2 separate regions of the Homo sapiens genome follow, and region 2 is linked to region 1. The links come from fine-mapping of genetic effects on gene expression. A gene starts in region 1. The other region holds a variant in brackets. All regions are shown on one strand. Distances are from middle to middle.

What was found. PIP is the estimated chance that this variant, and not a neighbour inherited with it, causes the effect.
Region 2: its variant is fine-mapped to the expression of ATRAID in prefrontal cortex (BrainSeq, PIP 0.95).

The regions. Positions count from the first base shown.
Region 1 is chr2:27,208,861-27,214,235 of GRCh38, forward strand. It overlaps ATRAID (all-trans retinoic acid induced differentiation factor), which reads left to right and starts at 3,181. Exons shown (of 7, transcript NM_001170795.4): 1 at 3,181-3,607; 2 at 4,317-4,438. The coding sequence starts at 3,509. It overlaps SLC5A6 (solute carrier family 5 member 6), which reads right to left and starts at 3,408. Exons shown (of 17, transcript NM_021095.4): 1 at 3,160-3,408; 2 at 2,607-2,673. RefSeq lists enhancers at 1,251-1,310, 1,265-2,062 and silencers at 2,845-3,164, 3,355-3,604.
Region 2 is chr2:27,169,013-27,174,387 of GRCh38, forward strand. No RefSeq gene overlaps it. Among named protein-coding and RNA genes, the nearest start is that of TCF23, 23 kb to the left of the region's middle. RefSeq lists a silencer at 1,004-1,053 and an enhancer at 2,509-2,803. The variant CT/C (reference allele first, on the strand shown) is at 2,309.

The sequences.
Region 1 (5,375 bases):
ATTCCTAGATGGATTAGCCTTTCAGCCTAAAGTACTCTTGGCACTCTGTGCGGGAGGGAGTTGGAAAGAAGGAACTGAAAACATGGGAAAGTTGAAAGTTGATTTTCTAACTCCTGCACAAGAAATGTTAATCCCCCAAGAATACACCACAATCCTCAGAGAAAGAGGGAAGGGATCATAATATTTAAAATCTTAAATCTTTGGACACCACTATTACAACCAACCCCCCACCACTGACGATTTCACAGATAAACACGCTAAGGCTCAGATGGTTCAAGTGACCTTTCCAAAAGCACAGAGCCGACTATTGTCAGAGCATAAATTAGAACCCAGGTCTAGGGATTCACCATCCACCCTGTCTGTTCTCCAAGCGTATCATATTGTCTTCAAAGGCAATCCTCTGGGGTACTTATTGGTATGAGGAAAAAACACCAGAGAATGCCATGTAGTTACACAGCCTAACATGACGACAGTTAACATTTGCTGAACACCTGCTATGTAACCCAGCAGTGTGTGAGGTGCTTTATAAACATTAGTAATAATACATAATGAAGCTAACATTTTCAAAACAGCATGTCTCAGATTAAGACACGAATACTCTCCAGTTAACACAAGAAAACTGAGAGATTAAATAACTTGCTCAAGGTTATGCAGCATGATACAAAACAAGAGAGAGAGAAACAGTGCTGTCTGCAGCTATGACAGGTGTTCAGCAAGGGCCCTGTCCTCACTATTCCCAGAACCAGGACAGGAGCAGAGTGTTGCAGTCAGTCATTCACAGGACATAGTTTAGATTTCAACTAATCAAGAGACAGACTAACATAAACTATGTCTTCTGCTTTTGCCCACTAGGAGAAAGATTAGGCTGCCTTTCCGCTCTCCCACAGTGTGTTCTTGGGCAGACACTGGCTGGCTGGCAAGATATGGCCTCATGCAGACTAAACCTGAACTCTGAACCTCTTGGGGCCAATAAAGAGGGAAAATCAGACCTGGCAACTCTTGGATCACATGTTCTACAAGATTCCCAACAGGCTTAAACTCTGGTTTAACCTAAACATGCCCTGGGCCTTTGCACATTGCAACACCCTGAGTTTTCTCATTCGTCTTTGGCAAGTTTTTACTGCTATGATAGAGATGATGGGAACTACTGGGGAGTAAGAGGAAAGAAGAGGTCTCCTGTGTGCAAAGAACACAGAACAAAGAACTAACTATAGGGTTAGTGGTTTAGAGAGGTAGGTGGCCAGAGACAGGAAGGAAAGTCCCAGTATGGGACACGGAGGTACAGAAATAAAGACACTCTGCTGATGGGACTTCCTGATAAAATTCTATTTGCATGATGTATGGAGAATTCCCCTGGATGGCCTGAGAGAGCCCCAGGGAAGACAGGAAAAACCTGACCTAGCAACAGACCAGATTCTGAGAACAGATCTGTAGTTTTCTAAACACCCTACATTGATCCAAACGCTATGGTCTCGCATCTCTCCAGAAAGAGGGCGGCCAAAAGCAAGAGCTAGCTGTTGTTTCACTACAACTATAACATGCCAAGGCACAAACAGCAGATTGTGGGACCCCCCCCCCTTTTTTTTTGGAGACGGAGTCTCGCTCTGTCGCCCAGGCTGGAGTGCAGTGACACGATCTCGGCTCACTGCAACCTCCACCTCCTGGGTTCAAGTGATTCTTCTGCCTCAGCCTCCTGAGTAGCTGGGACTACAGGCATGTGCTACCGCGCCCAGCTAATTTTTTTTTTTTTTTTTTGTATTTTTAGTAGAGACGAGATTTCACCATATTGGCCAGGCTGGTCTCAAAACTCCTGACATGACGATCCACCTGCCTTGGCGGATCGGTGGCCTGGCCACCGCGCCAGGCCAAGTTCAGGTTTTTAAAAGGGGTCCCACATCACTGCCTGTAATCCCAGCACTTTGGGAGGCCGAGGCGGGCAGATCACGAGGTCAGGAGATCGAGACCATCCTGGCTAACACGGTGAAACCCCGTCTCTACTAAAAAATACAAAAAATTAGCCAGGCGTGGTGGCAGGCGCCTGTAGTCCCAGCTACTCGGGAGGTTGAGGCAGGAGAATGGCGTGAACCCGCGAGGCGGAGCTTGCAGTGAGCCGAGATCGCGCCACTGCACTCCAGCCTGGGCGACAGAGCGAGACTCCGTCTCAAAATAAAAATAAAAATAAAAATAAAAACCTGAACTCACTTTGGTCACACACTGCAGTGGATCGCATTGACTCCTACAAAAGGCAATGAGACCACTGCAGGACTAACTGTTCCAAAAAGATTCCCTCAAAATCTGTCCTGGGGCCTATAATTCCTCAAGGTGTGAAAGGCTTTGGGGGCCCTCCTTAAAATGCTAATAGCTACTAACACCTTAGAAAATTTGCCAGCCAGCTAAACGTAAACCTTTCAGGAACTTCCAGGCAGACACCATGGGGGTAATGTGGAAGGGAAGCCTGGCTCGGCTACTCGAGATGATCACTTGGGTCGGCTTTAAGGAGCTTTCTGGCTGGCCCTAACCAACACTGTCGCGCCGGGAGCAGGGATCCCCTGGCGCCCTTCAGTCAGGGCGCTGGCCCACCCTGGGGCAGCAACGCACTCCCTTACCTCCGTGGTTCAGTCAGAGCTAGGAAGGTCCCTTTGTGCTTCCTGAGATCAACATCGCTCCCTTTTCCTGGGAAGGCAAAGAAAATGAGTTAGGGAAGCGTCTATCCCGCTCCTACCTCCTCGCCAGGCTCCGGGACGCTATGCGCTATCAGCATTGAGGTGAAGAGGACTAGGTGCCCGGGGCGATCCAGGCTCGTGTCCTCCCGCTGGAGTTTGAGGTTTGCCCTTCCCTCATCACCCTCACCCTCGTTCTTTCTCGGTTTCCCGCTTCCCTCTACGCGGCGGAGACCACCACCTTACCGCTCGCACTTAAGATCTCAGACCCACGCCGGAGGCCGGCTCGCTCCGCCCCTCCCCGCCCCCTTGTCCCCGCCCCGGCTCAGACGCCGCTCCCCGGTGCCTCTCGGCACCGGCTCACGCTCTCCAGGCCCACCTGCCCGGTCTCCACACGTGGGTAGCCAGAGCCCGGCCGAGAGCCCTGGCCGGGAGCCCGCGGGGGCCCCGCCCCCTGCCCGCCCCCTGCCCGCCCCGCTCGCCGTGCCGCCATGTTTACTGAGGGCGGATGGAGGGGCCCGAGTTTCTGCGAAGCCGCGACCTCGGCGTCCGGACGCGGGGAACACCGGGCTGAGGGAGTCTGCAGTCGGCTCCGGGAAGCCGCGCGGCGACGGGGGAGGCCTTCACTAAAGGGGAAAAGGAAGAGGGGGTCGGCCAGTATCCCCGAAAGAGGGCTAGGGCGCATGAAGACCAGCGCAGAGCTCCACGAGCAGGAAAAGCCCCCAAGCAGCCCCAGGGCGACTGGACCGGGCCGCTTAGGCCACGCCCGGGGAAGAGGGCCTGACGCGCTGCGGGGCGGGGCCGCGGGGCCGGGTCGCGCGAGCAGCGGAGCACCAAGGGAACGGAAAATGGCGCCTCACGACCCGGGTAGTCTTACGACCCTGGTGCCCTGGGCTGCCGCCCTGCTCCTCGCTCTGGGCGTGGAAAGGGCTCTGGCGCTACCCGAGGTACAGAAGCAAGTTTGAGGTCGGGCTGAAGCAGGGTCGCTGGCCAGCCGTGCGTCGCGCTCGCCAGCGGCTCCCCCTTCTCCTCGGCGGGCCTGCGGTTCTGATTTCGTCCCTGACGCTTCCCGACCCTGCCCAGCCAGGTCCTGTTCCCAAGTACTCACGTCGTGCAGGCCTTCGGCGCCCCAGTCCTGCCGACTTTCAAAGACCTGTGAAACTTGATTTCGCCCCTTAATTTTAGAATAACTTTAAGTTCTTTCTACAGACGGGTCCTCTGCCTCTTGTGTAATCTCTCTACGCACGAACGCCATATATCGTGCGGTGGTAGGGCTGTACTTTTGTAATGCTTGATGAGTTCTTTACGTACCTGCGGTCGTTTTACACCGCGCCAAACTAGGGCTGTCAGATTGAGAAGTCTCTGCAGAAAGCATAATAAATAAGTTCGAATAGTGATCTTCAGAGATGAGGACCTTCCCTGTGCGATATCTGGTACTGAAAGTGTCGGGAGCTGATTCGGCGCAGGACTCTGGAGGAAGAGATGGCATCTCCTAGCCTAGCCTGTTACAAGGGTGGGACACGAGCCGTTTATCCATTTATCGGCCCCGTGTTAGAGGAATTCTGGAAACGTGTACTGGCAGTTAATTCTTGATCGCCGTTTGTTCTTTTCTTGGCTTTTCTTTCTGGAGTTCTAATGTTTCTTTCTCTTCTGCAGATATGCACCCAATGTCCAGGGAGCGTGCAAAATTTGTCAAAAGTGGCCTTTTATTGTAAAACGACACGAGAGCTAATGCTGCATGCCCGTTGCTGCCTGAATCAGAAGGGCACCATCTTGGGGTGAGGGGAAGACATCCCTAGATGCTGGATACAGGCCATTCCTTAGCCTGGCTGCTTTTATACCCTTATATTATTTAAAGAATCCACCTATTATGGTTTCAGCTGTAATCATCACGCAGATGTCTACCAAAACTAGATCTCTTTAGTGTCTTTTTTAACCTTTCCACACTCCAGGTACATACGGGTACCTCTAGCTTCCTATTAAGCATTTCCTACTGAGTGCACCCTAACTTCAAACTCAAAATGTTATGTTTTGCTTCCATTCTCTTCTTTCCTTCATCTACCTAAATACTTCTCTGTATTAAGCTTTTAGAAAACCAACATTTTCCATTATCACTCTCTTGCTTTAATACTATATTTAGTATTAAATTTTGTCTCAGGACAAAATTCAAACCATTAAGTACCATACTAGTCCCAACCCACTTTTCCAACATTATTTCCAATTACTTGTCCGCTCAAACCTCCATAATGGTCTGCACCAGCCAGATTTGCCTGCCCTCAAAGGCATTCCACCTTTGTTCAGGCCTCTCTCCATACCTGAAATTGCCTTCCTCTACCAAATTAGGAAATATCCATCCTTCAATTCCAACATCTTTTGTGAATATTTACTACTACTAAGTTCCAGAGTAATACCTTTTTTAAATTATTATTTATTTATTTTTTTGAGACGGAGTTTCACTCTTGTTGCCCAGGCTGGAATGCAATGGCATGATCTCGGCTCACCGCGCCCTCCACCTCCTGGGTTCAAGCGATTCAGTAATACCTTTTTTAAAAACTTCCTGTAATCTTTAGTGTCCACTCAAATATATTTATACACTGTCCTGTGGTTTCTTTTATATTGTAATTTAATGTTTACAGTGCTTTTATTTTTGGGCAGTGCTCTTGTTCCTCTAACTACATTGTAAGCCACTCAAAGGCCAAAATACTGTGTTACATA
Region 2 (5,375 bases), 40 kb before region 1:
AGGAAAAGAGTGAGAAATTATACTACATAAAGTTAGGAGCACCTATTCATCACAAGATACCGTTGAGAGAGTGAAAAAGACAAGTTCACAGACTGGGAGAAGATACTATTTGCCATATAACTCACATATTTAAAAGGGCTTCTATCAAGAATGTATTAAAAATCCCCACAGAGCAATAAGACAGAGACTGATAATTCAGTAGTAAATGGCTAAATGGGTTAGAAACACAGTTTTTTTGTTTTTGTTTTTGTTTTTTTAAAGAGACAGAGTCTCTCTGCGTCACTCAGGTTGGAGTGCAGTGGCACCATCATAGGTCACTGCAACCTCGACCTCCTGGGCTCAAGGGATCCTCCTGCCTCAGTCTCCCAAAGTGCAGGGATTACAGGCGGGAGCCACCTCATCTGGCCTTGGTCAGGCACTTTCTAAAGAGGATATCCAAATGGCTGAACATGCTCAACTTCATTAGTTATTAGAAAAATGCAAATTGAAATCTTGAGATACTACAACACACCCACCAGAATGGTTAATATCTGTATCTGTTAAATCCAGGGTATAAACACACCTAAGGCCGGGCGCTTTGGCTCACGCCTGTAATCCCAGCATTTTGGGAGGCCTAGGCGGGCGGATCACCTGAGGTCAGGAGTTCTAGATCAGCCTGGCCAACATGGAGAAACCCCGTCTCTACTAAAAATACAAAAAAATAAGCCGGGCGTGGTGGTGCACGCCTGTAGTCCCAGCTACTCAGGAGGTTGAGGCAGGAGAATCGCTTGAGCCTGGGAGGCAGAGGTTGCAGTGAGCTGAGATTGCGCCACTGCACTCCAACCTGGGCGACAGAGTGAGACTCCGTCTCAAAAAAAAAAAAAAAAAAAAAAGATATGCATGAGAGCGCTCATAACAGCGTTATTTGTAATAGCCCCAAGCTGGAACCCTGCTTTTGTTTCCTATGGCGCTGGGGCTGAGGTTCTGCAAACCACTTTCTGCTTTGCCAGCTGGCACTTCGCTGGGCTCCACCAATAGAGGGTGCTAGAGGAAGCCCGCAAGACGGGAGGAGGGAGCGGGGATTTGCTTCTTGCAGTTTACTTCTTGCGCCCCCCTATCAAGGTGGCAACAGCTCTTTAACCCGGCAGCCCCACTTGGTTTAAGTTTCCAACTTTTTCCCCATTCTCAGAACCACCCTTGGCTGGGCGCGGTGGCTAGCGCCTGTAATCCCGGCACTTTGGGAGGCTGAGGCGGGTGGATCACTTGAGGTCAGGAGTTGGAGACCAGCCTGGAGACCACAACGAAACCCTGTCTCTACTAAAAATACAAAAATAAGCAGGACGTGGTGACACGTGCCTGTCATCCCAGCTACTCAGGAAACTGAGGCAGGAGAATCGCTTGAACCTGGGAGGCAGAGGTCGCAGTGAGCCAAGATTGTACCAAAGCACTCCAACCTGGGCAACAGAGCGAAACTCCGTCTCAATTAAAAAAAAAAAAAAAGTACAAGCCTTTAGCCTGCCCCTTCAAAGATGCCAGCACCAGTTATACAGCACTCTGTGTTCTGAAGCCTGAGTTCCACCTCGGCAGGGCTCCTCCAAGCTTCTAGGTTCCAGTAACTCCCACCTTTTTCTTTCATTAACTCCACCGCTCTACGTCCTTCAGTTGCCACCTCTCTGTTCCTTGGAATTTGTCTTTTGCCTTTGCAGTCCTTACCGTTAAATTCCCTCTGTTATAATAACTGGTGTGGTTTTTATGTTCCTAATTGGACCCTGACTCATACAACAGCCCAGATAAGATTCTTTTGGCGTCTGACCTGTTTCTGGACTACATACAGTATTACTTCCCTTTTCTTATTTTTATTTTTATTTTGAGAGGGGGGTCTCGCTCTGTCACCCAGGCTGGAGTGTAGTGGCACAATCAGCTCACTGCAGCCTCAAACTCCTAAACTCAAGGGATCCTCCCACCTCAGCCTCCCAAGTAGCTGGTACTACAGGTGCGTGCCACCATGCCCAGTTATTTCCCTTTTAAGTAGGGAATCTGAGGGCTGCAATAGTTTGCAGATCCTCACAGCCTTGCTTGGTTGATTGTCCTTGGCATCTTGGCATGGTTACAGAAACAAATCAGAGCCAAAGAAAGCTGAGAGTCTTGGGTGTGACTGTTTGCCATGGGACAGCTAGGGTCAGGCCAATCTTTATGAACATGGTACTTGCTGGACTTTTTTTTCTCTCCTGTGAATGTGCATGGGAACAGTAGTGTCTTTCCTATAGTCTTCATGACCCTCCCCAGTTGCTGGAGCAACTGAACTTGAAAATTTCCAGCTCCAGAGGCA[CT/C]TTTTTTTTTTTTTTTTTTTTGAGACGAGGTGTTGCTCTGTTGCCCCCAAGGCACAATCACAGCTCACTGCAGACTTAACCTCCCAGGCTCAAGTGATCCTCCCACGTTAGTCTCCTGAGTAGCTGGAACTACAGGGGCACCACCATGCCCAGTTGATTTTTTATTTTTTAATTTTTTTGTAGAGACGGAATCTCACTATATTGCTTAGGCTGGTCTCGAACTCCTAGGCTCAAGGGATCCTCCCTCCTCGGTCTCCCAACGTGTTGGGACTACAGGCGTGAGCCAATGCACCTGGCTCAGAGGCACCTTGTTGTTACTATGGCACCATTGTGTCTGTGTGCGTTTAATGACATCATTGCAAGGGCTGATTCTTTAACCAGATTGTAAACATGTGTGCAAAAGTTGCCCCGCAAATTAACAGGAAAGTTGTGCAATTTGCAAGCAGAGCAGCATGACCTAAGGCCTTGATGGGCCATGATCTTTCAGTGTCCTTCCCCTGGCAGGTGGGTAGCAAACATTATGAATTATCATAAACCCAGTCCATCCTCCCCACCCAAAAAAAACGCCTCGTGATATATAATTTTCCTAACCGGGTTAAGTACATGATTCCTACCATTTAAATCTATGTCTAAATAAAGCAGAAGAACACAAACTGCTTATTTTAAAATCTATTTTTATTTATTCTTAGAGCCAGAATATTTTCTTAAGATTTTCGTAGTGTATAAATTCTAGATTTTGCCAGGCTTTTGGTTCTGCCCAGAGGCACTAGATTGGGCAGAAATGGATAGAAATTTCCTCTGTCTCCACTCAGATGCATGTTTTTGTCACCCCAGTTGTATTCAGTGAGCTTGTTTTCTGATTTATTTTTTTAAGTGGGACCCATTCATTTCCATTAAGGCCCTCATGAATACTATCCAGGCTGGGGCTTGGCTGTGCCTATCTTGGGGCAGAGTAGTCTCTATTATCCAGAAGATCTCCTGGCTTGATGTCTTATCTTTGCATTGTCAAATGTATTCAGCAGGCATTCATGTTATACCTGCGACAGCGGTACATCATGTCACTTCCAGATCTGGACCAGATAACTCCTGGGATCCTGGTTGTGTAGCCTGGCTATCATATCTCCCTCAGGAAAAACTAGTGTTATCAGCTCCCTTTCTTGCTTCTTTTAAGGACCTACATGGATTTTTCTGAAGTGCCACTGCACAATGCTTCCTCTTTCCAATACCTGTTAGATCTGAAAGGGGAATTGAGTCTCCCGTGGGTGCTGGGGTATGGCTGAGGGGTAGGTGTGGTCTGCAGGGCACCACGTGCAGCTTGTCTGTAGGCTCCATTAAAGACCAGTCAGGGCTGAGCACAGTGGCTCACGCCTGTAATCCCAGCACTTTGGGAGGCCGAGGCGGGCAGATCGGCGGGCAGATCACAAGATCAGGCATTCGAGACCAGCCTGGCCAACATGGTGAAATGTCGTCTCTACTAAAAATACAAAAATTAGCCAAGCGTGGTGGCACGTGCCTGTAGCCCCAGCTATTCGGGAAGCTGAGGCAGGAGAATCACTTGAAACTGGAAGGCAGAAGTTGCAGTGAGCCAAGATCACGCCACTACACTCCAGCCTGGGTGAAAGAGTGAAACTCCAACTCAAAAAAAAAACAAAAAAACACCAGTCAGATGTGCAGGGATGGGAAGATGCTGGCCTGCATGTACTCTTCATCCCCTACCTTTCCTGACATCCTCACAGGAGCCATGGAACAGCCAGAGTGAACATTCTAGCGGTGCCTCAGGCCACGCCTTCTCTCAAGATCCATATGCCACTTTCTTTTTTATGCCCCTGAGCATGAACGCAAGGATCACAGTGGAGACAACTTTTCCTCTCCTGGAAGTCTGGGACAAAGGCTGCAAGCCTCAGGTTCCCTGAGGGAACTCACCTGGCAGGCCTCCGTGGAGTCCCCTGAGAGGGAACTCCAAGGGGCTGCCCCACCACTCGCTGTATCTTGGGAGGGTCCCCCATGCTGCCACACAGACAAGAGGAGGGACTGCTCTGACTGATTCATGAGCTCCCCAGTGCATCCACTCAGGGAGACCCCTTCCCCAGACAGTGGAGGGTCATGACGGGGCAGCTTTTTAGCTGCGTCCCACCAGGATGAAACATTCATCTTCCAATTCCTGGTGTTTCACCCTGGTCCAAGAGACCCTGGCTGCCTGTTCTGAATGGGAATATCCCATCGTTAGTAAGTTAGAGAAAACTACAATCCATTTAAATGACTCAATAATCTGCAGAAGGAAAACTAAACCGAACAACTCAAACAAGTGGTTTTTAATGAGACCGAACCAAAAGAAGTAACGGAAATGTTTTTTAGCATCAACACAAAACTGTACAAGAAATTAACACACTATAAGATTTTCCTCCCCTTCTAGCAATAATATCTCAATGTCCTCTCCCAGCTAAGTCCGTGTGGTTTGAGAGGGACGAACTGCACCCCAGATCTCGATTTAGACACGACCCCATTTATGCCAAGGAGAGTCAAACCCAGGATTTTGTGGGCGTGGAAGTAAGTGTCCATCCGACTCCTCATTGCTGCTTTTCAATGATTTCTTCTCCCTTCTATTTCAAAAACACCAGGGGCTTTAGAGTTTGTACCCTCTGGTTTGTCCCCCAATATCCTTTGTTGGTGGCAACTTCTACTAAATTCTGAGTCATTCCCTGTCTTTCATTGAAGATTTTATCATCTGACTGTCTTTCTCTCTATCCTATTCTTGTCATCATTTTTTTGGTTTCAACACTCAAATGGATGATTTATCCAACATCTTGGCATCTTAGATTCTGACCTCCTCAAATGCAATTTTCTATTTTCTCTCTTCAGCCACCCATTTCTATGGTCATGCCCTTAACCTTGTCAAAACCAATAATACACCATTCTCAGAATCTCTATTTTAAGCATTCTGATTGGATATTGTGATCCCTATGTCTTATCCTTCCATCTCAGTCTCATGCCTGCAGTCCAGTATTTCTTCAGTCTTCTTGAGACCTTTAATTCATTTGCTTCCTTCTGTCTTACTAACCATCTTCC